Linked DNA regions of Homo sapiens. The main gene of each other region encodes a partner of the protein of the gene in region 2 in a complex. Each region holds a gene or a part of one and is shown on either strand. Other genes may lie near its edges. The genes, in order: MORF4L1, SIN3B, PHF12 and HDAC2. A codon is read from its position in the direction of its gene.

Region 1 (7,236 bases), on a different chromosome or scaffold from region 2:
TCCATAATCATGGGCTCTATAAACTGTTTCCTTTGTGGTCTAGAAATAATAATGTAAAAAAGCAAAATTAGGCCAGGCATGGTGGCACACGCCTGTAATAGCATTTTGGAAGGCCGAGGTATGCGAATCACTTGAGGTCAGGAGTTTGAGACCAGCCTGGCCAACATGGTGAAATCCCGTCTCTTAAAATACAAAAATGAGCTGGGAGTGGTGGTGGGTGCCTATGGTCCCAGCTACTTGGAAGGCTGAGGCAGGAGAATCGCTTGAACCCGGGAGGAGGAGGTTGCAGTGAGCCGAGATCACCCAACAGACAGAGCAAGACTCCATCTCAAAATAAATAAATAAAGCAAAATTAGCAATTTACCATTTGACAGTATATAAGTGACGTGAGGTAAGTTGCTGTTAGAGATGATAATCAAGATGAGGAGACTTAAAACAAAAAAATTACACAAATCTAAAAATATTTTGGGGAACAAAAATAATTGGAAAAAAATTTTAACCTTTGACACCTTTTTTTTTTGGTGGGCCTAATAATGTAGTATATACTATAACATATATTAATATAACCCTGGAAGAACGAAGTTGTTTACTAAAGTGTTCTTGGTTTGCTTTTCTTTTTTTTTTGTCTTTGAGACAGGGTCTCTGTCACCAAGACTGGAGTGCAGTGGTGCAATCAAGGCTCACTGCAGCCTTGGCCTCCTGGGCTCAAGCAATCCTCTCACCTCAGCTTCCCAAGTAGCTGGGACTATAGGCGTTTGCCAGTATGCCCAGTTAATTTTTGTATTTTTTATAGAGAACAGGATTTGCCATGTTGCCCAGGCTGGTCTGGAATTTTGAGCTCTAGAGATCCACCCCCTCTTCACCTCCCAAAATGCTGGGATTACAGGCATGTGCCACTGCGCCTGGCTTGGTTTATTTTTTTCTATTATGTGGAGAGAGATGGGAATTTAACCAACTATCAATAAAAATCCTTGTGTCTGAGTAGGACACATATTTACCACCTGATCCTTTATCCAAGTTAGTATTTCTCTGTGAACTTAACCCTGATAAAGGGAGTTGAAACAGAGGCAGTTTTACTGGAAATAATTATTTTTCTTTTTTTTCTCTCCTTTTAGGAAAACGAAAAAGAACAAACAGAAAAGTAAGAATATTAACTTTCTTAACGTTAATTTATGTTACCTCTATGACATTGACGTTTTTATTTTGAAAGCTATGAAATTTTGGAGTAAGCTTATGTTTATTGATTATCTCAAATAGGAGTCTCACAGCAGTGTTATAAAATAGGTACATGGTGGTAGAGACCTCTTTTTGCCAAGGAGAAACTTGTGAGCATTTATTTTCATCTGCTTTAGTCTTAATGTCTCCCACTGAGAAGATAACATTTATAAATAAATGGAAGATGGTGATACTAAATGTTGTCTATACTAAATGTTCGGTAGAGCTCTTCATGAAAGTTGTATTTTTGGTAGGAATATGATTCTTTAACTTAGATTGAGGTAACAGCTGTGTAATGGAGAAATAATGAAAAGGGTTAATGTGTCAAGAGACTATTTTCCTTATAGAGTTTGTTAAATTAGCTAAATGAGACCCCTCCCCGCCAACATTTACAGCACCTGGAAATGGAGATGGTGGCAGTACCAGTGAGACCCCTCAGCCTCCTCGGAAGAAAAGGGCCCGGGTAGATCCTACTGTTGAAAATGTGAGTTTTTCTTGTGTTTATGAATAGCATGTTAGGATTTTTAGTCTCAGTTACATGACATAACCATGGGAGCTTTGATTATCTACAAGATTTGCTTACATGGTTAATACCTGAAATTAAAAATTTTCTCTTTTGGGGGTAAAGGATAAATTTCTGTATATCTTTATTTCACCTGTAGCTCCAGATTTACCTACCCAATTGATCATTTGTTGTGTAAGCTTCATGTTCACCTACAAGACTATTTCTTTGGTGTTACGTATTTATTTTTAGGAGTTAAAGATGTACCTTTAAGATGGTTGTGTTTGGAATAGTTTTGATATCCATGGTAAATAAGAAAATACTAAGTTAAAATGTATCAAGTCAGGGTGTTTCATTTCCTGAACAAGAGGAACCTTACTGAAGAATTTTTACCTTTACAAGAAAATGCACTAAATAGACTATAGTTCAGGTCAGATTCTTTTCTCCCAACAGCGAACCGCGTATGGTCGTTTTTATTAATGATTTTAAAAAATGACAGTACAGCTGTATGCTTGGCTACTTTAAGATTTATCCCTAGTGCCTCTAAAAGTCAGCTCCCCTCCATGTTTGGTATTTAGCAAGAAAGGTTAGGTTTTTAATACTCCTCCTGTTTCTGTTTAGGAGGAAACATTCATGAACAGAGTTGAAGTTAAAGTAAAGATTCCTGAAGAGCTAAAACCGTGGCTTGTTGATGACTGGGACTTAATTACCAGGCAAAAACAGGTAACTTGAAAAGCTACCCAGATTGTTAAGCTATATGATACATTCTTGCTAGCAAAAAAAGTTTTTAAAGGAAAATGTTATATTGACTTGAATTATTAAGGTATGACTGATAAAATAATATTTTAATTTAGAGGCTGAACACTTTAGAACTACTACCAGAAAGAGTAAGTTAGAAGAATAAAAGTTCACATATAAATTTTATGAGGTTATAATGATAAAGGTGGAAATAACTCATTTTTGGAGATTGCTAGGGCAGGAACTCGTTCTGAAAATTCATAAAGGTGAAGAAGCATATGTCTTACTGTCATTGCTAATGGTAGGCCATAGAAAGCACACACCACCACCTGCAAGGTATTCATGACCCTGAAAAGAACCTGAATCTTACTAAGCGCCTGGATCTATTGTTAGTTTGCAGGAAATAGGATGTTTAATGGAGTGACATGTTTGTCAATCGTTGAACTCTATAATTGAGAATTTTATAGGACAAATGAAGCTATTTGAACAAATGGCATAGGTAGGGTTAGGGATAGTTGGGGGAGATGATTAGGGACTGCTTGAGGATTATGAGACTTAAGAGACCTATCAGTCATATACAGTATGTGGATATAGTTTGAATTCTGATTTGAATCCTTTGGAGGGTTATGCAGTTACAGCTAAACTGCGAAGATTCAAGCATGGCTGTATCACTTATTATTTGTGAGTTTGGACAAGTTTCTTAGCCTTTTTGTGCTTCTGTTTTTGCATTTAATGGAATAATAGTTTGTATTTGACAATGCTGATGAGAGGACGAAAAGATAATTATTTTAATGCTTTAGACTAGATCTAGCAAATAGTATGCATAACAGTAAATGATGACTTGGTAGTACCACAAAGGCACATTCGTGTCTGTTATGTGTGTGTGACAGATTGACATTTTTAAAAGCTGTGCTGTTCTGTCTAGTAGAGTCTCATTTGGCTGTTTAAATATATAGATGCTCCATAACTTAGAATGGGGTTACATCGCAATAAACCCAGCAGAGAGTTGGAAAATTAAGTCCAAACCATTGTAAGTTGGGAACTGTCTGTAGTTTCTCAGCCACATTATCCATGTTTTAAGTGCTGAATAGTATCTTTCCTAATTTGAAATACTGTTACTGTTACCTGATCTTTGTATAAAAACTTGCCTGGTATGATTTTTCTTTAAAAAAGAGAGTGCTTATATTTAAGCATATTTTTGTCTTCATAGCTCTTTTATCTTCCTGCCAAGAAGAATGTGGATTCCATTCTTGAGGATTATGCAAATTACAAGAAATCTCGTGGAAACACAGATAATAAGTAAGAATATACATTTTTCAGATGACACTCAAAAGACATTTAAAAAAGTTTCTAAATAAGTCATCTGAAACTTGTACTGACTCCGAAACATTAATACCACCAGAAACTAGCAAAATAGAATTTCACTGCTTTGACACAGGAGTTGGCTGGCTGACTTTTTCTTAAAGGGCCAGATAGTAAATATTTTAGGTAAAATTTAAGCTATCATGTAGGTATTTGCATAACCATTTAAAATTTAACCATCTGAAAATGTAAGAATCATCTTAATTGCTTTAGTTTGTCAAACCCTGCTTTCATATGCCCTTTAAAAAAATCTCAGCTATGGTTCATTATTACTAGCTCAGCTTTTAATTCTTTAAATTGGTTGAATTATTCTCTATGTCAGTTATTTTTATTGACCAGTTTTGGAATATTTTTGTTCATTTATCAGGGAGTATGCGGTTAATGAAGTTGTGGCAGGGATAAAAGAATACTTCAACGTAATGTTGGGTACCCAGCTACTCTATAAATTTGAGAGACCACAGTATGCTGAAATTCTTGCAGATCATCCCGATGCACCCATGTCCCAGGTGTATGGAGCGCCACATCTCCTGAGATTATTTGGTAATATGTCATGTAGAAAATAATGGATTTTACTTTTTGGGGGGTCTTCTCTAAATGAATAAGAGGTAAAGTAATTAACTTTCCAAAACATGACTCCCATTTTAATTTGAACTTTTATCTAGAATGTTAAATAGCAAAATCTCTTTAGGAGCAAGAGTTTTAAAAATCGTGTATTTTATTTTATAATTTTTTTTTTTTGAGACAGACAGTCTCTGTTGCCCAGGCTGGAGTGCAGTGGTGCGATCTTTGCTCACTGCAACCTCCGCCTCCTGGGTTCAACAATTCTCCTGCCTCAGCCTCCCAAGTAGCTGGGATCACAGGTGTGCACCACCACATCTGTGGTAATTTTTGTATTTTCTGTAGAGATGGGGTTTCACCACGTTCGCCAGGGTGGTCTTGAATACCTGACCTCAAGCGATCGCCTATCTCGGCCTCCCAAAGTGCTGGGATTACAGGCGTGAGCCACTATGCCCGGCCTAAAATCATGTATTTTAAAGGAATTGGTGGTGTTTGCTCACATAATTAAAATACATGGTTGTAGTGCCCCTGCCTTGGATGTAACTTTGGATAAATTCTCTTGTTTAAACAGTACGAATTGGAGCAATGTTGGCTTATACACCTCTGGATGAGAAGAGCCTTGCTTTATTACTCAATTATCTTCACGATTTCCTAAAGTAAGTCTGTGCTTGAAATTATAAACATGGATTTGAAAATTAGCGTGTAATGGGAGGGATTGGCAGTATAGATGCTAAAACATTAAACATTATATTGGTACAGGCATAGATAGTTGGTAATGGAGCAGTAAAAGTAAGTGCAAACACATGGGAGTCTCAGAAATGATAGATGGTATATAGATGATATATTGGTGCAGTAGGGGAAAGCAGTGGAGTCTGGTAGATTGGTGATAAGACAGCTGACAGTTTGGAAGAAAACAAAGCCACACTTGTCATGTACCAAAATTCTAGATGAATCTGAAGTTTAAAATTAAATTGTTAAGATAATGAAAGGAGAAATGTAATATTTTCATAGTTCTATAGTGTTCCATTTATGATAAATGGTTGGTACCTTTAATACACACAGAGTTCTTCGGTAAGAAATGAACAAACCAGTGAAAAGTAGGACAGGAAATTTACATCAATGGCAGCACAAAGGACCATTAAAAATATGTCAGAAATAATGATGAAAGTATAAACTGTCAGTAAAGTAGCACTTGTCAGATTGGCTAAGGTTTAAATGTTTGAAGAAATGGAGAAAAGGGCAATCCTGGTTTCTACAAGTTTTTGGAGGGCATTTTTATAATAGTGAAGAATTTGAAACAAGCACTTATTAAAAGGGTGAGGTCACTCTAAACATACTGATAAAGATGTCCATGTTTTCAATTGAAAAACAGCCAAGCTGTAGTAGAGGAGTATGGTGTAATTGTTACTTGTAGAGAAACATTATTTTAATCTTTGCATAAGATCTGGCTTTCCAATGTGGATCTTAGTTAATACTGGGTTATTTCTTGGGCGTGGTGTTGGAAGGGAGGGTGGGAGTTTTCAGTTTCTACTTTGTATACTTCTGTATATGAATTTTCTCATTACAATCGTTTTACAGTAAATTTAAAACTGCAACGTGGACTTGAGAATGTAGGCAAGATTTATCATCTTTTCTTTACTAATGATAAATACCTTCTTTGGACCTCAGTTTCTTTATGGAATGTGCTCTACTACTTGACATTTCACGTTCCCTTTTATGTAATTAAAAAAAAAAAGTTTATTCATTTAGAGATGGAGTCTTGCTCTGTCGCCCAGGCTGGAGTGCAGTGATGCGATCACAGCTCACTACAACCTCCGCCTCTTGGGTTCAAACGATTCTTGGGCCTCAGCCTCCCAAGTAGCTGGGATTACAGGTGCACACCACCATGCCTGACTGATGTTTGTATTTTTAGTAGAGATGGGGTTTTGCCATGTTGGCCAGGCTGATCTTGAACTCCTGGCCTCAAATTTTTGTGCCTCGGCCCCCCAAAGTGCTGTGATTACAGGTGTAAGCAACTGTGCTTGGCCTGATAGGATTTTTTTCTTTTTTCTTTTCTTTTCTTTTTTTTTTTTTTTTTTTTTTTGAGATGGAGTTTCACGCTTGTCCATGCTGGAGTACAGTGGCGTGATCTCAGCTCACCACAACCTCTGCCTCCAGGTTCAAGCAATTCTCCTGCCTCAGCCTCCCGAGTATCTGGGATTACAGGCATGCGCTACCATGTCCAGCTAATTTTGTGTCTTTAGTAGAGACGGGTTTCTCCACTTTGGTCAGGCTGGTCTTGAACCCCAACCTCAGGTGATCAGCTTGCCTTGGCCTCCCAAAGTGCTGGGATTACAGGCATGAGCCACCACTCCCGGCTGATAACGATTTTTTTTTTAGAAAATGTCTAGATGTTCTTTTAGGGTAATGCTGTCATGTAATAGGATAATAACTGTTTCTTAAAGATGGTTCAAGCTCCCAAGTTGGTATTCTGCAGACATAACTGTTCTTTGCTGTTTAGAAATAGGGGAGTAACTCCAGAGTTCATTCCTTTGTATATGTATAGTGTTGTTCATTGTATAACCTTATTTATTTACCTGAATTGTCATTATGTGTGGTTTTACTGTGAGAGAATGTCTGGTTTAATGTATTTTAGGAAAGTGTTTTCTGTGGCTTATGTATATAATATATAGGAAGAGATTTGGATCAAGATAATGACCTTTAAAAATTTTTGTAATGAATATTTTATTTTTAGGTACCTGGCAAAGAATTCTGCAACTTTGTTCAGTGCCAGCGATTATGAAGTGGCTCCTCCTGAGTACCATCGGAAAGCTGTGTGAGAGGCACTCTCACTCACTTATGTTTGGATCTCCGTAAACACA
Region 2 (7,236 bases):
TCAGCTGGGCTGGGCAGCTGAACACGGCCCAGGGAACTGCCCCTCGCAGCTGGCAGCCGCGTGGCAGCCAGGGTGGATCGGGTTGAGCATTCCCTTCAGAGCAGTCACGATTTGCGTTTATCCCAGCAGTAGCCTCAGGCATCTCTGCAGCTTTTTTGTTGGTCTCTTTCCTTCCTACGTTTCCATCGGCTTGTGGGTTTTCCTTGTGAGCAGGGTTGGCATAGGGTTCTTAAATACGGGGAACGACGGAGCCCACATCAATGAGGGGGACGTCGTTATGCGAGGGTGGGCTGGGTGGCTAGGTCACAGCAGGATTGTGGCACCAGCAGTCAAAGTAACTGCAACTTTTTTTTTTTTTTTTTTTTTTGAGACGGAGTCTCGCTCTGTCGCCCAGGCTGGAGTGCAGTGGCGTGATCTCGGCTCACTGCAACCTCTGCCTCCTGGGTTCACGCCATTCTCCTGCCTCAGCCTCTCCCAGTAGCTGGGACTACAGGCGCCCGCCACCACGCCCAGCTAATTTTTTTTTTGTATTTTTAGTAGAGACGGGGTTTCACCGTGGTCTCGATCTCCTGACCTCGTGATCCGCCCGCCTCGGCCTCCCAAAGTTCTGGGATTACAAGCATGAGCCACTGCGCCTGGCCATAACTGCAACTTTTTTGGTAGGATCTGATGTTACTGCTTAGAGACGGGGTCCTGCTCTGTTGCCCAGGCTGGTCTCAAACTCTTGAGCTGAAGTGATCTTCCCGCCTTGGCCTCCTGAGTAGCTGGGATTCCAGGTACACACCACCAGGTCTGATACTATTTTAAACAGAAATCCAGGTGGCATTGTAGGGTCATTTGCATTAAAGCCTTCCTGTTGTCGACCACAGCCATGACATTATGACTTTCAAGCTTGTGTCCAGAGAGGGGTTCACAGAGAGAAGTCTCCCTCATGAGAGGAAGACTGTGGATCAGAGATAGGCAAACTTGATCTCTGAGGGGCCAGATGGGCTTTGTGGAAATGACTCAAACCCCTCTTGTGCAGGCAGCCACAGGCAGTGCGTACACAAGTGGATGTGACTGCAGGCCAGTGAAACTTTATTTACAATGGGATGGCTAGGCATGGTGGCTCACGCCTGTCACCCCAGTACTTTGGGAGGTTGAGGTGAAAGGATCACTTGAGGCCAGGAGTTCAAGACCAGCTTGGGCAACATAGCAAGACCCCATCTCTACAAAAAAATTTTTAAATTGGCCCTGCATGGTGGCTCACACTTGTAATCCCAGCACTTTGGGAGGCCGAGGCGGGTGAATCACCGGAGGTCAGGAGTTTGAGACCAGCCTGGCCAACATGGGGAAACCCCGTCTCTACTAAACATACAAAAATTAGCCGGGCATGGTGGTGCATGCCTGTAGTCCCAGCTACTCAGAAAGCTGAGACAGGAGAATTGCTTGAACCCGGGAGGTGGAGGTTGAAGTGAGCCGAGATTGTGCCATTGCACCCCAGCCTGGGCGACAAGAGTGAAACTCTGTCTCAAAAAAAAAAAAAAAAAAAAATTTAGCCGGGTGTGGTGGCACATGCCTGTGGTCCCAGCTACTGAGGAGGCTGCGGTGGGAGGATCTCTTGAGCCCACGAGTTTGAGGTTGCAGTAAGCTGAGATCATGCCACTGCCCTTGAGCCTGGGCAACAGAGTAAGACACTATCTCTAAAAAGAAAATACCAAACCAAACAAAACACAGGCAGTGTGCAGACTGGCTGTGGCTTGCCACTCCCTGGCCTGAAGCCTGGCCTCTTCCAGTCAGGGAACATCAGGGGTTCCAGCTTCTGCCAGTTTAAGTCATCTTTTCTGGTGTATTTCAAAGCCTTACTGTGAGTATGGGATTAATAGGCACAGGAAGGGACCTGGTGTGTGACAGATGGGTGGGAGGCCCATTCATTCACACACCCCGGGACTTGCAGTGACTTCCTGTGTATTGGATTCTTCCGCCTCTCATTCGCATCCATGATGTTGAATTCTGACTCTGTTTAACTTGTAATGTCCACATGAAGCCATTCTAAAATCTCCAGATCCCTCTCAGAAGGCCCTGGGGATGACCAGTTACCATGTGTCTTTATCTTTGAAGGAAATTTCCAGAACTCTTTGCACAGTTCAAGTCCTTCCTGGGGGTAAAAGAGCTGTCCTTCGCGCCACCCATGAGCGACAGATCCGGGGACGGGATAAGCCGGGAAATTGATTATGCATCCTGCAAGCGCATAGGATCCAGCTACCGGGCACTCCCCAAAACCTACCAGCAGCCCAAGTGCAGTGGGAGGACAGCCATCTGCAAGGAGGTAGCGCTCCCTGGGGCTCAAATGTTCGTTGACATGGTGCATCCCCCACCCCTCCCCAGCAAACACCCGATACCCCCGTTATGAATGAAATGCTGTGTGCTCAGCCCTCCTGAATGTTGGGTTATGGGTGGTGCTGGGATGTGGCCCGGCAAAACCACCTGAGCAGAGACAACAGTGTTGTACCCTGCTGGTAGTTTTGGCAAAACACAGAGTGCCAGGGATAACGTGGAGTTCGGCTTATTCATCTGTTATTTGACTTAGGTTTATTGCTGCCATGATTCTGCTCTGTCCCGGGCTCACTGACCTCAGTGTGTTTCTGTTTAGCTTGACCATTGGACACTTCTCCAGGGTTCGTGGACAGACGATTACTGCATGTCCAAGTTCAAGAATACCTGCTGGATTCCAGGATATAGTGCAGGGGTCAGCAAACTCTGGCCCACGGGCCCTGGCCCGCTGCCCGTGTTTGTAAATAAAGTTTTACTGTCACACAGACACAACCATTCCTTTACATATTGCCTGTGGCTGCTTTTCTCACCACAAAGGCAGAGTTGAGTATTCATCTGGGATGGCCTGCAAAATCTGAGATGGTTGCTGTCTGACCCTTTGCAGAGAGAATTTACCAATGTCTGAAATGAAATCGGCCCTCCGGATCTGCAAGTTCCTCATCTGTGGTTTCAACTAACCATGGATTGAAAATACGTGGGGAAAGAGAAACCAAAAAATGACAATACAGCAATAAAGCGTAATCCACATTTTAAGAATGCAGTGTAACAATGATCTACACAGCATTTACATTGCATTAGGTATAAGTATTCTAGAGATGATTTTGCATAGGATATATGCAAATAGGATTCCATTGGACATCAGGGACTTGAGTATCTGTGGATTTGGGTCTTCAGGGGTGGTTCTGGAACCAATCTCCCAGGATACCAAGGGAGTGTCCACTTGACCAAAGTCATGTTTTTCCTTAAAAACTTTATGCACCTTCCCATTTGTATAAGGCAGTTGGTATTATGTATCAGGATGGTATTATGTATCTTGGTACTTTCTACACTGGCTAACAGTAAATCTTGGCTCCTGGGGCATGCAGCGTCATTCACGGCATTTCCTCTTGGTGCAGGTACTGAACGACACCTGGGTCTCCTTCCCTTCCTGGTCTGAGGACTCCACGTTCGTCAGCTCCAAGAAGACACCGTACGAGGAGCAGCTTCACCGCTGTGAGGACGAGCGCTTCGAGGTGTGTGTGCTGCTGTGGCCGGGTCCCCCGGCATGTGCCTGTTCCCCTTCTCCATGGGACATGCATCCTGATCCTCCTCCACTGCCCCAGTCTCGTTTGGAGGAGCAGGAATTGCAGCACATTCCAACAGCTCCTGGAAGCTTCCTGCCGGGTCTTGCTGGCCTTTGGGCTGGCTACCAGATGGCACTTTTCTTTCTGTTTAAAAATTTTGTTTGGGCTGGGCGTAGTGGCAGACACCTGTAATCCCAACACTTTGGGAGGCCAAGACAGGTGGATCATTTAAGCTCAGGAGTTTGAGACCAGCCTGGGCAACATGGCGAAACCCCATCTCTACCAAAAATACAAAAATTAGCCGGGCGTGGTGGCGGGCGCCTGTAATCCCAGCTACTCGAGAGGCAGAAGCAGTAGAATTGCTTGAGCCAGAGAGGCCGAGGCTGCAGTGAGCCGAGATCACACCACTGCACTCCACCCTGGACAACAGAATGAGACCCTGTCTCCTAAAAAGTTTCTTTAATGTAAAAATTAAATTTATTTTTATTTTATTTATTTATTTATTTTGCTTGCTCTGTTTCCCAGGCTGGAAGTGCAGTGGCGTAATCATGGATCGCTGCAGCCTTGACCTCCCAGGCTCAAATGATCCTCCCACCTCAGCCTCCTGAGTAACTGGAACCACAAGTCCATACTACCATGCCCAAGTTGTTTTTTTTACTTTTTTTGTAGACATGAAGTCTCACTGTGTTCCCGAGGCTGGTCTCACACTCCTGGCCTCAAGCGATCCTCCCACCTTGGCCTTCCAAAGTGCTGAGATTAAAGGAATGAGCCACCACACCTGGCTAATTTTTTTTTCCTTTTTTTAGAGACAGGGTCTGTATTGCCCAGGCTACATTAATTTTTGTAATTAAAAGTTTTATTGGCTGGGCACGATGGCTCACGCCTGTAATCCCTGCACTTTGGGAGGCTGAGGTGGGAGGACTGCTTGAGGCCAGGAGTTCAAGACCAACCTGGGCAACAAAGCAAGAGCCCATCTATACAAAAAAAAAATTTTTTTTTTTTTTTGAGACAGAGTTTCACTCTGTCGCCCAGGCTGGAGTCCAGTGGCATGATCTTGGCTCACTGCAACCTCCACCTCCTGGGTTCAAGCGATTCTCCTGCCTTAGCCTCCTGAATAGCTGGGATTACAGGCACACCACCATTCCTGGCTAATTTTTTTATTTTTAGTAGAGACGGGGTTTCACTATGTTGGTCGGGCTGGTCTCGAACTCGTGACCTTGTGATCCGCCCATCTCAGCCTCCCAAAGTGCCAGGATTACAGGCGTGAGCCACCGTGCCCGGCCATAAATTTTTTTAATTAGCCAGGCATGGTGGTGCACACCTATATTCCTAGCTACGTGGGAGGCTAAGGTGGGAGGATTGTTTGAGCCCAGGAGGTTGAGGCTGCAGTGAGCTTTGATTGTGCCACAGCACTCAAGTCTGGGTGACAGAGCAAGACCCTATCTCTTAAATACACACACCCCCCCCCCAAAAAAATCCTCTGGTCTCTGAGGTCCCAGGCTCCTCTCTGAGGCCTCTTGAGTTCCCCAGTGGCTGACCCCGTCCTGCCTTCCTTTCCATAGTTAGACGTTGTCCTGGAGACGAACCTGGCCACAATCCGTGTGTTGGAAAGTGTGCAGAAGAAGCTGTCTCGGATGGCGCCGGAAGACCAGGAGAAGTTCCGGCTGGACGACTCCCTGGGAGGCACGTCGGAGGTGATCCAGCGCCGTGCCATTTATCGCATCTATGGCGACAAGGCCCCGGAGATCATCGAGAGCCTCAAGAAGAACCCTGTCACCGCTGTCCCCGTTGTCCTGAAAAGGTGCCCTGTGGCGTCCCGACTTCCCTTCCCCTTCCCCTTCCCCCTTCCCTCCCCTCCCCTCCCCTCCCCTCCCCACTGCAGGGAGCCCTTGGAGAGCTCATTAGTGCTGTTTGTCAACAGGTGTCATCTCCAGGGGTGGTCTCTGAGGCCTAAGGGTGCCTTCCTGTATTTCCCAGTCTCCCACTCCTGAGAGGAGAGCACTGTGACCTTCTAGGACTTTCCACCTTGCACATAATACATCTAGACATCTAAATAACTGCTTTAAGAGTCAGATGCGACCACTACACTGTGGCTTGCATTTTATTTAATGCTGCATTTCGGATGCCGTCCGGCGCTAGTTAACAGGCATTTATCAAGTGGTCACTTTCAGGCAGGTGCAGTGCTTGGCCCTGGGATTATGCAGCTGAGTGAGGCAGACCCAGTCCCTCTCTTGGGACTCACAGCTGAGCAGGGGACCTGAGTGGTTGAGCCAACAGCCATGCGGAGAGTGCTGGGTGCCAGGGAGGAGGTGGAGGAACCGGGAAGCCGGCCACATTGGCTCTGTAAGGCCATCACGCCCTCCCTCTGACGTGCACAGAGCCCACTGCACAGACTAGGCTGGGAGCTGGCTGGGCCTGGGTCCTGGACCCCCAGTCAAGTCCCAGAGGAAGACAGGCCAGCCCTGGGATGCTTCAGGGAGGATGCCCTGGCTTGTCCCTGGTGCTGACCTCTCTTCCCCCCGCAGACTGAAGGCCAAGGAAGAGGAGTGGCGGGAGGCCCAGCAGGGCTTCAACAAGATCTGGCGGGAGCAGTATGAGAAGGCGTACCTCAAGTCCCTTGACCACCAGGCTGTGAACTTCAAGCAGAACGACACCAAGGCCCTGCGCTCCAAGAGCTTGCTCAACGAGATCGAGAGCGTCTACGACGAGGTAAAGCCTTCCCTAGCCCTGCCGGCCGGTGGGGGTGGGGTCCTGGCTCTCCCGACCGCCGGGTCTGTGCCTCTGTTTCCCTGGTGGTTAGGCAGGGTAGTGGCATTGCCCTTTCAGGGCTGTGTTGAGGCGAGGGTTCATGTCTCTGTGATGCCCAGCCTGTGGCCTGCCCTAGGAGAACCAGCAACTCTGCCATTGTCTATCTGTTTGTTTGTTTGGAGACAGAGTCTCGCTGTGTTACACAGGCTGGAGTGCAGTGGTGTGATCTCAGCTCACTGTAACCTCAGCCTCCTGGGTTCAAGTGATTCTTCTGCCTCAGCCTCCTGAGTGGCTGGGACTACAGGCGCACACCACCACACCCAGCTAATTTTTATATTTTTAGTAGAGATGGGTTTTCACCATGTTGGCCAGGCTGGTCTTGAACTCCTGACCTCGTGATCCACCCACCTCAGCCTCCCAAAGTGCTGGGATTACATGCGTAAGCCACCGCTCCTGGCCGACTCTGCCATTGTCTAGCGAAGTCTCCGTCCCTCCCGTGGGGCAGTGATGGACTTTGGCTTAGGTAGTGGGTGGCAGCAGCCTTCATTTCTTTCTTGCCGACTGTGCCAGGCACCGGTGTTAGCAACACAGAAAGAGTAATGCATCATCTGACCTCACTCCTGAACCTGACTCTGCTGCGGCATTATTCTGATTTTACCAGTGGGGAAACTGAGGCACAAGAGGTTGCATTTGCCTGGGCTGGTCGCAGGGGGCCAGGGCTCTGAGTCATTGGGTTCGAGGCTTTCGGCTGCATGTCCTCACTGCAGGCTCACAAGGCCTGAGTCATAGAACCAAGGCCAGCGGGGCCCTCAGGTTGCCAGGAGCTGGGCCTGTTAGTAGCTGTGTGTAGGGAGTGCCTGCTTGCAGGATCCTGAGGTGGGAAGCTTGGCAG
Region 3 (7,438 bases), on a different chromosome or scaffold from region 2:
ATGCCCACCATGGCCTATTTTCTTGGTGTCATTGCCCACTTGGGGCCCTTCATTGGGCCCATGTCAGGGGGCATCTACCTGTGGGAAGAACATAGCTGGAGCACAAGCATCAACAGCCAGCATCCTGAGCCTCCTCATGCCCTGGACCAGCCTGGAACACACTAGCAGAGCAGGAGTACCTTTCTCCACATGACCACCATCCCGCCCTGGCATGGCAACCTGCAGCAGGATTAACTTGACCATGGTGGGAACTGCACCAGGGTACTCCTCACAGCGCCATCACCAATGGCCAAAACTCCTCTCAACGGTGACCTCTGGGTAGTCCTGGCATGCCAACATCAGCCTCTTGGGAGGTCTCTAGTTCTCTAAAGTTCTGGACAGTTCTGCCTCCTGCCCTGTCCCAGTGGAGGCAGTAATTCTAGGAGATCCTAAGGGGTTCAGGGGGACCCTACCCCCACCTCAGGTTGGGCTTCCCTGGGCACTCATGCTCCACACCAAAGCAGGACACGCCATTTTCCACTGACCACCCTATACCCTGAGGAAAGGGAGACTTTCCTCCGATGTTTATTTAGCTGTTGCAAACATCTTCACCCTAATAGTCCCTCCTCCAATTCCAGCCACTTGTCAGGCTCTCCTCTTGACCACTGTGTTATGGGATAAGGGGAGGGGGTGGGCATATTCTGGAGAGGAGCAGAGGTCCAAGGACCCAGGAATTTGGCATGGAACAGGTGGTAGGAGAGCCCCAGGGAGACGCCCAGGAGCTGGCTGAAAGCCACTTTGTACATGTAATGTATTATATGGGGTCTGGGCTCCAGCCAGAGAACAATCTTTTATTTCTGTTGTTTCCTTATTAAAATGGTGTTTTTGGAAAAAAAAAAAAAAAAAAAAAAAAAAGCAATGGCCAGGTGAATGATGCTTTCTTGGAGGGACGGGAGGTGGGAGATAAATGGGATATGGACTTCAGGACCAGAAGGCATGCTAGACCCACCAATCAATCATCTTCAGATTTTATTTTATTACTACTGTTTTTGAGATAGGGTCTCACTCTGTCAACCAGGGTGGAATGCAGTGACTGGATCACGGTTCACTGCAGCCTCAACCTCCAAGGCTCAAGTGATCCACCTCAGCCTCCTGAATAGTTAAGACTATAGATGCAGGCCACCACACATGGCTAATTTAAAAAAAAATTATTGTAGAGATGGGGTCTTACTATGTTGCCCAGGCTGGTCTCCAACTCCTGGGCTCAAGTGATCCTCCCACCTCAGCCACCCAAAGTGCTCAGATTTTATTTTAAAAGAAATTATTGCATGCAGTTGAACAGGGTCCCCTGTACCAAAAGGGACAGTGCAACAGATAGCAGGCAAAATCAGAGGCCCCAATGGCTGATGTTACAGGGATGTGGGAGCCCAGGAACCCCACTGCACATCCACCCAATGCCTTATTTCCTCCTCTTTGCCAGGTCCAGAACTACAGGCTGGCACACTCCCAAATCCCTTCTCAACGCCACTGATGCCCTTCTCAATGCTAACTAGGCTCAGGAAGTCTGATGCATCTCTCCTTCCCCTTATTTCTAAGTAAGCAAGGCTTGGGAAATTAGAATAGGAAACAGAGACTGATCCCCAAAACATGAAGCCCTAATCTGGCTTGGCCTTACAAAACCCTTAGATTGTCAGGAGCAGTGGTAATGCAGCTTACGGGCTTGGATCCTAAGTTAGGCAAAGGCCCTAACCATGGGCTCTGGAAAAAGGTGGCTGGGAGGATGTGCTCAAGTTTGCCCCTTCCCTATGGGCCCCAGCACCTACAAAGATGGAAAGTGCCCAGCGTTGGCCCCCAGTATGCACATTCCATGCTGAGAGGTGTGCCCTGCATTGCTGCTCTCCAAGAGTGACAGCAAGAGGCAGGCAACAGGAAATTATGGGAGCTCAGAAACCAGTAGAGAAAAATCCATGAAAGAAATAATAGCAGCAACCAGCACCTTCTGCTTCTACAGTCTTCCAAAAGGGAAGTCTTGACCACTCATGCTGCCTACCCCTGGCTCTAGCACAAGCCACCTTGAAGGATGGAGAAGCTCTTGTCCATGCAGAGTGCAGTGCCTAGATTAGCCACAAGAGGTCACTTCCAAAGGCGTCTGTATCCCACCTGCTCGCCCCTCAATCCCCCCTCAACTGTCAGGGCGGGAGCTCTCCAAGGTGGGAGCATTCCTTGGCCCCACTGGCCTAACCTCATCCTGCAAGTTCCAAGAGGAAGAGGTGTGAAGTTTCCCTGGCTCTTGTCAACAGAGCCAAGTCTTATTTCCCTCATTAGCCCATAGTTCCTATTATCAGCTGCAATTGATGGTGTTGATCAAAGCAAAGCCTTGTCCAGTGGATGGATGCCAATGGCTTACTTACCTGTTCCATAATGCCTCCAGGTTAACACAGCAGCACAGCTGGGCCCTGAGCAGTAGGAAAAAAAGCCAAAGAGAGAGGGCACATGAGGTTCTAAACTCTGAGAGCCTGTGACATAAAATATAGCCATAGGAGATAGAAAATCTTGCCTCTTTCATACAAACAATCTAGCTCAGCCCTCCCCTCTCTGATGGCCACATCTCTGGTCCACAGCTCCTGAAGTTTATTGTTGGCTCAGAATGGTAGAAAGCAGAGGGCAGCCAATTCACATGACATTCTCCACCCCACCATCCATGACCTTATCATTCTTTCCAGGCACCAAGAGGGTCATCAGAAAAGCGAAAAGTCAGGAAAACAGAAACCTAAGACTCCATACACTGACATCCCCACTCTGTCTAACTCATCCTCCTTACTGTCCCCAAAGCAAGCATAGTAATTCCTTAGACACAGTCGACATAGTGTAATGGACAGTGTCTGGCTTGAGAATCAAGAAATCCAATTCTTAGGTCTGCCATAAATGCACTATGTGACCTAGGCAAATCACTGCGCCTCCCTGTGCATCTGGAAAAGAGGGGATTAAATCAGATGGTCTCTAAACCCTTGCTAGTTTGACGACTCTGAGAATGCTGTGTCCCTTAACATTAAAAGTGGGCCGAGCACAGCTACGAAGCAACAATTCCAACTAAACCCCTAGTGTCAAGCACAACGATACAATTCTCTTTTCCACTGCTTCATCCACCATCAGGCAGCAATAACCAACCGCCCATCTCTGACGGCAATACCAAGGGGAGGAGCGGGCGCCCTGAAAAGGAGCATGAATCCCCGCCCAGAATGCGAGGCGGGCCCTCAGACTACAAATCCCGGCATGCAGCACTGACGCTCTCAAAAGTATCCCTTCCTGGCCGGCAAATGACTCTTCCCCGGGTCTATCCTACCATAGAGTGCATCGCACGCACATGGAACTACAGTTCCCACAATCCATCAGACCTATCGCGATTCTTGCTCCCAGGATGCAATGCGCCCCCGTTCGCCCTTTAGACCCTTTGGCGTTGCAAACTGGGAGTTGGAGTCCGGGGTACGCAGGTAGCTGGGCGTTGTCAGGATTACAAACTCTCCACTTTAGGCTTCCTCTTGAAGAGCAGATCTCAGGGACAGTGGTGAAGAGAGGGTGGTAACGGGCAGGCGGAACTCTCCAGTGCCACCACCACGCAAGGCAGGGATGCTGAGGATACAATTAACTGATAAAATTATCTGTCAGGAGCGGGAGAGAATTAGGAACCACAGTCATCCCACACGCCTCCAAAAGCGTCATTTTCTGTCTCAAATGGCTTTTCTCTTTACCAATATGGTGGCCTGGTCCAGCCACACCCGATGGTAGAACCAAACGGTCAAGTACAACATCCCTAGGAATACTGCTGTCACCGACAGGCGACCAGCTCCATCCAACACCACACCTTGCTCCTTTCTGTTCATGCCTGAGGACTCCAAGGGCATGATAGCCCATATCCCATTACCAAAATGGCGAAAGGAGCAGCTTTCTTGTGAGGGCCTGCGGAAGGCAATACGCCTGCGCGGGAGGCGTCTGTGTTATGGAGAGGAAGGGGGAGCACCCCCAACACGCCTGCGCAGAACAGAGTCGTCTTAGTTTGCACACAAACACCAATGGATGAACAGTCCCTAGCTTCCTGCGGCTGCGCCTTGACCCCTACAAGCTTTCTCAAGCGCCTGCGCGAGACCTCAGGTCCCGCCCTTTTGTCTCAGTGCGCTGGCGCAGGGCAGAAAGGTGGGGCTTCGGTCCTCCAGACGAATGCCAGCGCGGCTGCGCGCTGGGGGGTACTCCCTCACCGCGGCTGCGCGGGAGCCAGGCCGCCGGCTGTCACTGCGGTTGCGCGCGGCGAGCGCCGATCCCGGGGCGCCTGCGCGGGTGGCTTTGCGGGCGCTCGCGGTAAGTTTGCGCCAAGTGCGCGGCAGCCGGGACGCAGACGGCGGCGGCGGCGAGAGGCGGAGCCCGGGGACCACCCCCCATCACCCTCCCCCCAGTCACCTCACGTACCACAACCTCACGTAACCTCTCACCCCCCCTCCGATACCCCCAGCCCCGGGATGGCAGCGCCCGCCAGCCTTCCCGGCCGGACCGGCTGTCGCCAGTGCCGGCTTTAGCCTGTGGGACTAGGCCCCGCCGAGGCCTGACCCCCGGAGCCGGGACCCACTGTGCAGCCAGCAGCCGGGCCGGGACTGAGGGGCCGCTCCCCCCTCGCGGCCCGTCGGGAGGACGCTGTCGTCCCGGGGACTGGGGGCCGGGGGGTGGGGGGGAGCCAGGGCGAGGAAGTCGGGACCCGTATTGGGAAAAAAGCGGGGCCGGGGTCAGGAGCGCCCCCTCCCCTCACCTCCCCCCTCCCCCCGGGGTTGGGGGGGCCGGAGCAGAGAGCACCCAGCCCGGGAGGTGGATGAATGTGGGAGAAAATGGAGACCAAGACGATCGTGTACGACTTGGACACATCAGGGGGGCTGATGGAGGTAAGAGTGGCCCTCCTCATCTCCTTCCTCCAGCGCCGGGAGGGAACCTCCGCCCTCCGCCCCACAAAGCCAGTCCTAAACTCGAAGCGCCTAGATGGCCGAGGGAGGGGGATTCTTCCTCACCTAGCCTCTCCCTCCCCTCTTTGCAATTTAGGGGGCTGAGCTCAGCCTCCGAGGACGTTTGCAGCAGTTTCACCTACCCGCCGCCCTCGATTCGCTCTCCCGAGGCGCCAGCCCACTCCATCTCGTTGCACCGGCAGGCCTCCCCACCCCCTTCTTGTTGGCCCCTTTGTGCTTCCCCCAGCACGTCCGGGTACCGGGCTTTGGGCCTCTCCCGAGCGGGTCTTTGGAGTCCCCCACTGTCCATACAAGGAAGTGGCAAGAAGGGAACCGCGCACCCTCTTCCCATCCCCCTACCCTTGATCCTCCCCATTTGGAAGAAGCTGTTCTCGTTGTTGTGCTGCAGGAACGCGGTTAGGGTGGGCTCCCCCTGGTTCCGGGGGCTGAGAGATTCTGGGAGCAGCCTGGATGGGAGGAAGAAGGACAAAAGGGGGGAGAGGGGTGGGTGACGGAGAAACCGCGCCGGGGGGGCGACGGACCGCCCGGGAGCTCCGAGTGTGCACACACGCCGTTTGTATGTGTGTGCAGCAAATCCAAGCTCTGCTGGCTCCCCCCAAGACGGACGAGGCAGAAAAGCGCAGTCGGAAGCCTGAGAAGGAGCCCCGGAGAAGCGGCAGGGCCACCAACCACGACAGCTGCGATAGCTGCAAGGAAGGTGGAGATCTCCTGTGCTGCGACCACTGCCCGGCTGCCTTCCACCTCCAGTGCTGGTAAGGTCTGGGGACCCTTTTGGAGCTTCTTGGCGGACCCTTCTCTGCGCATTCCTTCACCCGGCCTGCCCCTGACTGCCGAAATAACGGGCGCTTGCAGCCGCTAGCTGACTTTCTGCAGCTGCCGGGGCGAGCACCTCCCCGCCCCCAGGTGTCCGCCGGGTTCTGGCAGTTTAGCGGGGAGGAGCAGCGGTGGGTCCGGACCCCGAGGTGGGGGTTGGGACGAGTGAAGAGAACCCCATATGGGATTGGAAGTCGCTGGGGAGCCGGGACAGAGCCGGCCGGGGACAGCCGGCAGTGGCGGGGGAGGAAGGGGAGGAGCTCCGGGCCCAGTGCCGCTTGCCTGCCCGCGCGCCCGCTGCCCTCGGGGCTCCTGCCCGGCCGGGATCTCCTCGGGGTGGGTGCGTGGAGCCCTCGGCCACCTGAGTTGCCCTGGTCCAGACCCCGGCAACCGGGCGCTTGTGGCTGTAGAAAAAATCGTGGAGGGTGTCTCTCGAGTCCGCCTCTTCTTTGCCTCTCTGTTTACAATATGGCGACCTGCCTTTAAATTATATTTTTATTCTCAGCGCCATTTTGGCTGCATATATGATTTGCAAACGTCTCTCGGGGGAACGGTGGGGACAGCCCCAGAGTCCTTTCTGCAGAAGCTCCTCGGGGGCCCCGTCTGGGATCTCGCCGCTTTGATCCCCTTTCTCTGCCTCCGCTTGCCCCCTGTTGCCTCTCAGAGCTGCCTTCCTTCCTCCTCCCTCTTCCCTCCTCCCTCCCGGCGCCGCTGCCTCTTAGGAAATCGGGCCGGGTTAGACAATTAAAATTGCCCTTGGGCGCCGATTTCATTTCTCCGCTCCGGATCGGCGAGCCCTTCGCTGCAAAATTCTTTGCTGCCAGAGGGAGGATTGTGTGCGGTGGCACTAGAAAGGCATTTTTAAGGAGCTGAGAGCTGGAAAGCCGTACGCTTTTTCCCCCTTACTGGACATGAGAGGAGGGGAGAGACCGAACCGAGAGGGAGGGACCTGAGTTGATCGCCCGCTGCGTGATCCTCCTCAGCGGCTCAGCCCAGGACAATCCGGCAAAGAAGAGTTTAAACTCCATCTTCTGCCGGCCGAAATCACCTCTGCCCTCCACAAAAATCCCACATCTGCGGCAGCAAACCCAGATTTCGTCTTGTTCTACTGGGTCTCGTTCTGTTGTTCTGCAACAGTTGACTGAGGCAGGGGTTTGAGAGAGGAGCCAGACTGGAGAGAGGAAAAGGGGGCTGTTCTGTGTTCCCACCAGTTGTTTGATGTTGCCTTTTTTAGCCCTCTTTTTATTTTGTTTTAAGTGAAATTTCACCGAAGGTCTCTCAACAGTTCCATTCACGTTCCATCTCTCGGTTTGTGGAGTAGTGTCTACTGTATATTTGTACTAATTGCAGGTTTGGGAACACTTATTAGACAGATGACTGATACTGAGCAAATTAAGTTTATGGTCAGAAGTTATGTAGGAAACTCCCATTACCATTCCCAAGATACTTTTGCCCAGGAGGGCACCCCATCCCAGCTTGTAAAATTGCTGGGACAAAAATGATTATCGTAGAGGAAGTTTTGCTGCTGGCTTTAAAATTTTTATTATGAAGTGACTAAGGGTCTGTGGTTTTTAGCCTTTACTTCCTATAAGGTGTAATCCACCTGGAGAAGATATTTCTGGTCACATTTCTTTTGCTATTCT
Region 4 (7,236 bases), on a different chromosome or scaffold from region 2:
TAGAAGCATGGATTTTGTAAAAGCTGATTGTTTATCCCGTACTGTTATCAAATATGTAGGAGAGAGGACAAAAAAGTTTTTGGGGTTGTTTCCATTAAACAAACAAAAGGTGTATTTAGGGAGGACTTTGAAAGATTTAGTGGATAAATTGCATTTTTTATTCTAGCTTTTATTGTAATATATAAACCCGTGTTGAAATGATAGACTTCAAACCATTAAAATAGCTTGACTGTCCTGACCCTGTGGGGAATTAGTTCCAAGACTTCCACAGATAGCAAAATTCATGGGTGTTTAAGTTCCTTCAATAAACTGGTATAGTATTTGCATATAACCTATGTATATCTCCCCTTACACTTTAAGTCATCTCTAGATTACTCATAATACCTAATACAATGCAAATGCAGTGTAAATAGTTGTTACACTGTATGATTTAGGGGAAGATTACAAGGAAAAAAAGTCTCTACGTGTTTCCAGCAGACACCACCATCTATTTTTTAAAAATATTTTCAGTCTGCAGTTGATTGAATCCACAGATACAGAGGGTTGACTTTATATATTTGAGAGGCTTCTTGTTATTTACTATTATAGGAAACACTGGAGCTTTACCTAAAAGTATTAATTTTATTGAAATTTAGTTGATGAAAATCTGTGATTTTGTTATTTTCTCTTTTTTAAATCTTATGCATAAGTTTAAAGACATTGTGATATAAGATGCCGTTTAAAAAGACAGGCTAGGAATTACAACTTTTTAGTCATGAAGAATGAGACAGTATTTTTATTACCTTGAAAAATGTAATGCTGTGTCTTAGTGGAGCAAAACCTCATTTAGGACCTAAATTTCAGTTACCAAAACTTCCCTGATGGGCTTTAATATGGACACGGTATGTTTTAACATGCAAAACGCCAATTATGAGATTTCTGAAATGCCAGCAAATCATCCAAAAAGCAGTATTTGCTGAAAAAATTTTAAATCATACCAATAAAACTCAGAGAACTTAAAAGCATGTGAATTTGCCAGAGAATACAGAAAGCAGGCATCATTTCAAGGAACAGAAATTTTAAAAATTGGGGGTAGCTAAAAATCAGAAAAGCTTGCTTTCCTTAATCTACAAATAAATATAATGTGTAATAATGGAGTCTTCAGCTGGTAAAAGTGTGCGTAGCGTCTTAGTCATCTGATACAGTTTGAAAGTTGCAAAATAAATCTAAGTTGCTAAGGTTTTAAATAAATTTTGTTAAGTAGTAAATGCCTTCTAATGATAGACATACATAAATTCAAATAGTTCATGGAGGGTCTCTTGTCTGTATTGTTTAGTTTGTGTCTTTTCTATTTTAGGTGATATTGGAAATTATTATTATGGACAGGGTCATCCCATGAAGCCTCATAGAATCCGCATGACCCATAACTTGCTGTTAAATTATGGCTTATACAGAAAAATGGAAATATATGTGAGTATTCCTTTTAATACATATTCAGCACTGATCTTTTTTATTTTTTTTTAGCTACTGTGAAACTTTGTCTATTATTCCCCTTTTGAGGGCATTTAGCAGATGAAAAGATCTGGAAGAAAACAAACTTCTTTTTTCGTTTATTCTTAGGAGATGAATAAGAATGAGAGCTATACCCTCTTTTTCCTTTTCCTTTAACCATTTAAAAAAGTTCCCCCTACCCTAGGCTTTCATGGTTCTGGAGAACAACTCAGTATAGCAACAACTCAGTGTAGCATATTAAGTATTTTTTTTTTTTTTTTTTTTTTTACAATAATTGTTAATCTGCCTGTGCTGCTGAAAAGAGTTGACCTGGGACTGTTACAAAATAATAACACATAAAATTAATCCCACAAATATTTGCAGGGCATATAATACATATGGAATACTGTGTTAGTGTGGCCAAGCATAGTACAGATAACACAAGTGCAACAGCTGCCTTAATGTTTTTGTAGATAAAGATGAGGGTATGTATAAACAAATACAGACACGACAATTAGCTATTTGGGGAGAAAAGAAATATTTAAAACAATTAATGCTAGGCAATATATGTGAATATGTGAATTATTTTCAGTTACATGTAGACATTTAGAGAAGAGGGGAAGTTAGAATAAGACTCAGTCTGGAAGTCTTGTGGAAGAATTGTGTCATACGTGAAATTGAGCTCTTCGGAACAAGGAAGATTAGGATAGAAAAAAGGACGAGAGGTCGTGAACAAAGATTTAGAATTGAAAACTCTTGTAGTGAGTGATTTCATTGATGAAATCACTGGATGTTTTATCATGGAAAAGGAGAGAAAGTAGAGTTTATGAACATATGGATTTGACTTTTTACTCGAACTGTTTCCACTAAAATAAGGAGTGATTAAATCATAGTTGATATGCCTGTGTAATGCTTTTAAAGGAGTTTGAATTAGTTTTGAGATTGATTACTGTTTTCTAAAACACATATAAGTTTGGGTTAGTTTTGGAATTTATATATTTTGTTCTGGTAGACTTGGTTCTTTTGAGGGGACCGATAGGGGAATTTGTATATTTGTTTGATAATACTGATATAACCGGTTGTAATTCCACAGTTCTGACATTTATTTCTCTTCACAGAGGCCCCATAAAGCCACTGCCGAAGAAATGACAAAATATCACAGTGATGAGTATATCAAATTTCTACGGTCAATAAGACCAGATAACATGTCTGAGTATAGTAAGCAGATGCAGAGATGTACGTTTCTAAGTAAAAAGTAGTTTTGCTTTGATAAATGTAAATTAGTATTTTTAGGAGCTTAGAATGATCTAAATCTGAATATTTTTCCTGTTGGTCTAATATGTTACAGTTATTTACTGATTTGAAAAGTCATTTTAACACTACTAAAGCTACTTAAGAAAAAAGTAAACCTATCTGAAGCTTATTGGTTTGCAAAACTGCTGTTTGGGTATTCTTCTACTCCTAGTTTGCTCCCCTGATAACTTTGGGTTAATACATATTGGTAGGGAGACCTCACTCCCTTACTCCCTCGCTTCAAAAAAACAAAAACAAGATTACACTTTGATTAGCCTTAGCTTGGCATGTACATATCTCTTGTCTTGTCTTTGTGTACTTCAGTTAACCTGGACTATAATACACATCTCTTTTTCTTTGTTAAGATATTAGTGAAGCTTTTGATTCTACGTAATGTTCTCTTGTACAGGTTAAAAGTATTTTATTTTTAGAGATTAGTAACAAATTGGCTTGAAGGTAGAATGCAAAAGTCAACCTAAAATTATTGGAACAGTATCTTTTAAAGCTTGATACCAAAGTTCATTCTCATTAGTGTTTGTATTGACTGACTTCAGTGATGATTATACTAAATTAGTGTAGGTGCTAGACATCTCATATTTACAACCTCATACACATTTCTGCCATATCTTGTTTGATTTGTTATAATGCTACAATGTAACTAGAACATGTAGTATTTAATTTTTTTTTTTTCAATGAAGATTCCAACTTAGATGCAAAAGAGGCATGAGTAGCCCTTGGGCAAACAACATAACAGGATTGATTTAAAACCCACATAATAATGAGTTCTATTAAGCTTATGATCCTGGCCAGGTGTGGTGGCTCACGCCTGTAATCCCAGCACTTTGGGAGGCGGAGGTGAGTGGATTACCTGAGGTCAGGAGTTCGAAACCAGCCTGGCCAACATGGCAAAACCCTGTCTCTATTAAAAAAGTACAGAAAATTAGCTGGGTGTGGTGGTGCGCGCCTGTAATCCCACTACTCTGTAGGCTGAGACAGGAGAATTGCTTGCTTGAGCCCCAGAGGTGGAGGTTGCAGTGAGCCAAGCTCACGCCATTGCACTCCAGCCTGGGCGACAGAGTGAGACTCTGTCTCCAAAAAAAAAAAAAGATTATGATCTCTCTGTGCAGTAAGAAACTAAAATTCATTTCTTATAGTGCTTGTGACTTAAGGGTATACAAAGATATTAATATACAAAACAAGGACCCTTATTCTTGAAGAGGTTACAATTCAAGGGCATAGGGAAAGACTAAGAAAGGGTTACATACATCTGCCATATCCTTTCATTCTCTCAGTGCTAAGGAACTAAATGTGTGATCGTTTATCTGTAAATGTTTTCCTTGTTGTCTTTAGTATCCTATGTTTTGGCTCCCATGAACCTAGTTAATTCTTAGCAACTTTCAAGATCAAGATTAGCCATGGGAATAGGCAACCAGCTGTTACATCTTTTTGGTTTAGTAACTTACTGACATGCATTTCAAAGTTACAGATATTATAGGTATTTAAGGAGTTTCAAAGAAAGTAAATTATAAAGCAATTGAAGTTGCTTTTAGAATGTTAACTTATTGTAATATTAAGGGGAAAGGCCTAGAAAATTTAAGCCTGTGTTTTAATTAAATAAGAATTGTTGTACTTAGACAACTATTGAGTTCTTGTTAATAGACAGAAATATTCCACAGATAATCCTGATAAGATTTGATGATCTTTCACAGATAACACTTTAATTACCTTGGATAAAACAATAAATATATTTTAAAGTTGGAAACTTTATATTATACTGTGAAGTGTATGTTTGATGATTGCATCAAGCAAAAAAGTATTTGTGGGAAATAGTTTTTGTAAGAAAAGGCTTTCATTAATTTGCAGAATGTGTTGAAATTAATGAAATCCATCTTCCACAGTTAATGTTGGAGAAGATTGTCCAGTGTTTGATGGACTCTTTGAGTTTTGTCAGCTCTCAACTGGCGGTTCAGTTGGTAAGTGCTAATGCAATCAGATTTAAAAGTTGATCTGAACTTGGTGTGTTATCTTTCGGGTTATTTGTGTAAAACAGAAGTTTTAATGATTGTGAATTTTGATAACAAAAGGAAATCAGTATGTTTATAGTAAAGTACAATTTACTTTCAAACCTCTATGTTTTATGATTATGACTTAAACGCTTTTTAAACTTATTTTCACTTGGAGACTTCATTCATTCCCTTTGTCTTCTAGGTATCATTGTTACTACCACTTTCCACATAAACCATTATTTAATCTCAGGTTGCAGCTCTAGGAGAATATTTTTCTAAGGAGTAACTCCTATTTGTGTTATAGATGATTTCTGTTAACTTTCATGATTTTAAGCTCTTGCTTATGCATGGCATACACTTGTAGTGTTTTTGTCTCATTCTACTACTTTTTTATGATAAATGTTTAAAAGGTCTATCTTGTTTCTACTTCTTAGCTGGAGCTGTGAAGTTAAACCGACAACAGACTGATATGGCTGTTAATTGGGCTGGAGGATTACATCATGCTAAGAAATCAGAAGCATCAGGATTCTGTTACGTTAATGATATTGTGCTTGCCATCCTTGAATTACTAAAGTATGTTAATTTATATTGATACTCTTTTCAGTGATAAAGTGTTTTCATTAAAACACAATAAATAAAGTCTATGGCTTTAAAAAATATTAGGTAAACCATAGGTTGAAATAGTTAATGGTGAATTTTCTATGAATTCATTACAAAACAATGAAGAAATGCAGGAAATTTGCCCAATTCTTCAATTATTAAGACTTAGAAGTGTGGCCAGGCACTATGGCCCAGGCCTGTAATCCCTCCACTTTGGGAGGCTGAGGTGGGCGGATCTCTTGAGCCCAGGAGTTTGAGACCAGGCTAGGCAACATGGCAAAACCCCATCTCTACAGAAAAAAAATTAGCCAGATGTGGTGGCATGCATCTGTAGTCCCAACTACCCAGGAGGCTGAGGTGGGAGTACCTGAGCCCAGGAAGTTGAGTCTGCAGGAAGCCATGTTCCTGCCACTACACTCTAGCCTGGGCAACAGTGTGAGACCCTGCCTTAAAAAAAGAATTAGAAGTGTATAAAAGGCCAGTGCCGTGGCTCATGCCTGTAATCCCAGCACTTTGGGAGGACGAGGTGGGTGGATTATGAGGTCAGGGGTTTGAGACCAGCCTGACCAACATGGTGAAACCCCATCCTACTAAAAATAGAAAAATTAGCCGGGCGTGGTGGCGTGCGCCTGTAATCCCAGCTACTCAGGAGGCTGAGGTGGGAGAATTGCTTGAACCTGGGAGGTGGAGGTTGCAGTGAGCCGAGATGGCACCACTGCAGTCCAGCCTGGGCTACAGAGTGAGACTCCATCTCAAAAAAAAAAAAGAATTAGAAGTGTATATAAATGTCAAAACTCCCATTAAATACCCTTTTTTAAAAGTAGTTTGGCAATTTTCATTTTAGTTAGTTTCAACTAGTAAAAAATGACAATGACCTTGGAAGTTTATATTCTAGTATTTTGGATGTTTTAAACTGAAGACAAAAATTTGAAGCCAGTGTTAAAGGAAATTTTTTTACCTATTGAGTTAGTCTAACTGCCTAACTTCCATATCTGAATGAGGCTTTGTTCTCTACTGATGGATATAAAATTATCTCTGAGTTGTTGAAGGAGTTATTTTTCCTTATCTGTGGCTGCAGTTTGAGAGAGAGATCTATAGAGGTACTTAGGAATTTGGATGTTCGCAATGTTAGTTATTTTTTGCCATCAGTTATGACACATCTTAGCAGATTCTACTTTGTATTATACTGAGCTAGTGTTTTTTGCTTGTAGTTATTCCATGCATGCTATCCATAGAGGCTGACTTTTCAGTCAACTTAAAATTGATACTGACTCCTCAAATAAACAGTGATTGAGCAGTATCAGTGTAACATCTTGCCTGCTCATCAGGAGCAAAGGAAAATCATTTGCAATCATTTGCCTTGTTTTTTAATTGACTGTTGATGTTGGTTCCAGTGTCTTCAACTCTTTGAGCAAGTTCTTGCCCACTCAGCTAATAGTTTTAAACAACTTTAATTTGTCTGGACACATTTTTTTGGGTGGTGTAATCAAACATGATTTAATTAATTGACTTGGTGCACAGCTTTCCTTGCTTATCTAACACGTGAGCCGCTCAGAAACTTTATTTTGATCACAGCCTCATTTCTGTTTTTTTAATTTTGTGAAGAAATTTTGCTGTACTATGGTATGCTGTTTATAGTGTTATGAGAATATTCTTATGAGTGCTTAGTCTGGAAATATCAATTTACATTGTATTGTTTTATTTAGCACAGTTATGGCACCATTATATAATAAATACAATGCTTTGCCATCTAATAATATCTCACTTCACTATACTTCAAAAGGATGACATGAGAAGTCCATTTTCCCCTTATTTTGACATGAGTATACACTGGTAACAAAATGTCATGACATGGTGATTCATGTGA

Evidence for each region.
Region 1: the proteins of SIN3B (region 2) and MORF4L1 are in contact, whole or in part, in a cryo-EM structure (PDB 8BPA), measured with the Homo sapiens proteins. Residues at the interface, in NP_056075.1 of Homo sapiens: Cys394, Arg396, Arg402, Ala403, Pro405, Lys406, Thr407, Tyr408, Ser462, Phe463, Pro464; in NP_996670.1 of Homo sapiens: Gln217, Gln219, Tyr222, Ser348, Tyr350, Glu351, Val352, Ala353, Pro354, Pro355, Tyr357, His358.
Region 3: the proteins of SIN3B (region 2) and PHF12 are in contact, whole or in part, in a cryo-EM structure (PDB 8BPA), measured with the Homo sapiens proteins. Residues at the interface, in NP_056075.1 of Homo sapiens: Glu307, Phe311, Leu318, Glu322, Val323, Tyr324, Glu325, Asn326, Leu328, Arg329, Cys330, Ile331, Leu333, Phe334, Asn335, Glu343, Leu347, Pro350, Phe351, Lys354, Phe365, Lys395, Arg396, Glu490, Glu493, Leu494, Val497, Tyr545, Arg546, Ile547; in NP_001028733.1 of Homo sapiens: Leu20 (codon at 4,896), Met21 (codon at 4,899), Gln23 (codon at 5,553), Ile24 (codon at 5,556), Gln25 (codon at 5,559), Leu27 (codon at 5,565), Leu28 (codon at 5,568), Pro30 (codon at 5,574), Pro31 (codon at 5,577), Lys32 (codon at 5,580), Thr33 (codon at 5,583), Asn264, Leu266, Val267, Leu269, Val271, Val273, Phe275, Thr276, Asn278, Arg279, Ser280, Arg282, Cys292, Pro293, Leu294, Pro316, Asn317, His318, Ile319.
Region 4: the proteins of SIN3B (region 2) and HDAC2 are in contact, whole or in part, in a cryo-EM structure (PDB 8BPB), measured with the Homo sapiens proteins. Residues at the interface, in NP_056075.1 of Homo sapiens: Ile397, Gly398, Ser399, Ser400, Tyr401, Pro411, Lys412, Cys413, Ser414, Gly415, Arg416, Thr417, Ile419, Cys420, Glu422, Val455, Leu456, Asn457, Trp460, Val461, Ser462, Phe463, Pro464, Ser465, Trp466, Ser467, Glu468, Asp469, Phe472, Lys476; in NP_001518.3 of Homo sapiens: Lys9, Asp19 (codon at 1,339), Gly21 (codon at 1,345), Asn22 (codon at 1,348), Tyr23 (codon at 1,351), Tyr24 (codon at 1,354), Gln27 (codon at 1,363), Gly28 (codon at 1,366), Pro30 (codon at 1,372), Lys32 (codon at 1,378), His34 (codon at 1,384), Arg37 (codon at 1,393), Tyr46 (codon at 1,420), Gly47 (codon at 1,423), Arg50 (codon at 1,432), Lys51 (codon at 1,435), Lys59 (codon at 2,598), Thr66 (codon at 2,619), Lys67 (codon at 2,622), Tyr68 (codon at 2,625), His69 (codon at 2,628), Ser70 (codon at 2,631), Asp71 (codon at 2,634), Asp100 (codon at 4,676), Asp105 (codon at 4,691), Gly106 (codon at 4,694), Glu109 (codon at 4,703), His142 (codon at 5,269), Lys144 (codon at 5,275), Lys145 (codon at 5,278).

The regions. Positions count from the first base shown.
Region 1 is NC_000015.10:78,889,874-78,897,109, forward strand, and holds part of MORF4L1 (mortality factor 4-like protein 1), read left to right. Parts: intron 1-1,115; coding exon 1,116-1,141; intron 1,142-1,610; coding exon 1,611-1,699; intron 1,700-2,338; coding exon 2,339-2,440; intron 2,441-3,665; coding exon 3,666-3,754; intron 3,755-4,184; coding exon 4,185-4,357; intron 4,358-4,946; coding exon 4,947-5,031; intron 5,032-7,109; coding exon 7,110-7,194; 3' UTR 7,195-7,236. UniProt on the Homo sapiens protein: Component of the NuA4 histone acetyltransferase (HAT) complex which is involved in transcriptional activation of select genes principally by acetylation of nucleosomal histones H4 and H2A.
Region 2 is NC_000019.10:16,860,252-16,867,487, forward strand, and holds part of SIN3B (paired amphipathic helix protein Sin3b), read left to right. Parts: intron 1-2,100; coding exon 2,101-2,308; intron 2,309-2,400; exon of another isoform or gene 2,401-2,632; coding exon of another isoform or gene 2,633-2,728; exon of another isoform or gene 2,729-3,392; coding exon of another isoform or gene 3,393-3,428; coding exon 3,429-3,545; intron 3,546-5,158; coding exon 5,159-5,397; intron 5,398-6,121; coding exon 6,122-6,305; intron 6,306-7,236.
Region 3 is NC_000017.11:28,948,361-28,955,798, reverse strand, and holds the start of PHF12 (PHD finger protein 12), read left to right. Parts: upstream 1-4,280; 5' UTR 4,281-4,838; coding exon 4,839-4,904; intron 4,905-5,552; coding exon 5,553-5,734; intron 5,735-7,438. Other genes in the region: SEZ6 (seizure protein 6 homolog), read left to right, coding at 1-193.
Region 4 is NC_000006.12:113,954,119-113,961,354, reverse strand, and holds part of HDAC2 (histone deacetylase 2), read left to right. Parts: intron 1-1,336; coding exon 1,337-1,449; intron 1,450-2,588; coding exon 2,589-2,706; intron 2,707-4,661; coding exon 4,662-4,736; intron 4,737-5,203; coding exon 5,204-5,342; intron 5,343-7,236. UniProt on the Homo sapiens protein: Histone deacetylase that catalyzes the deacetylation of lysine residues on the N-terminal part of the core histones (H2A, H2B, H3 and H4).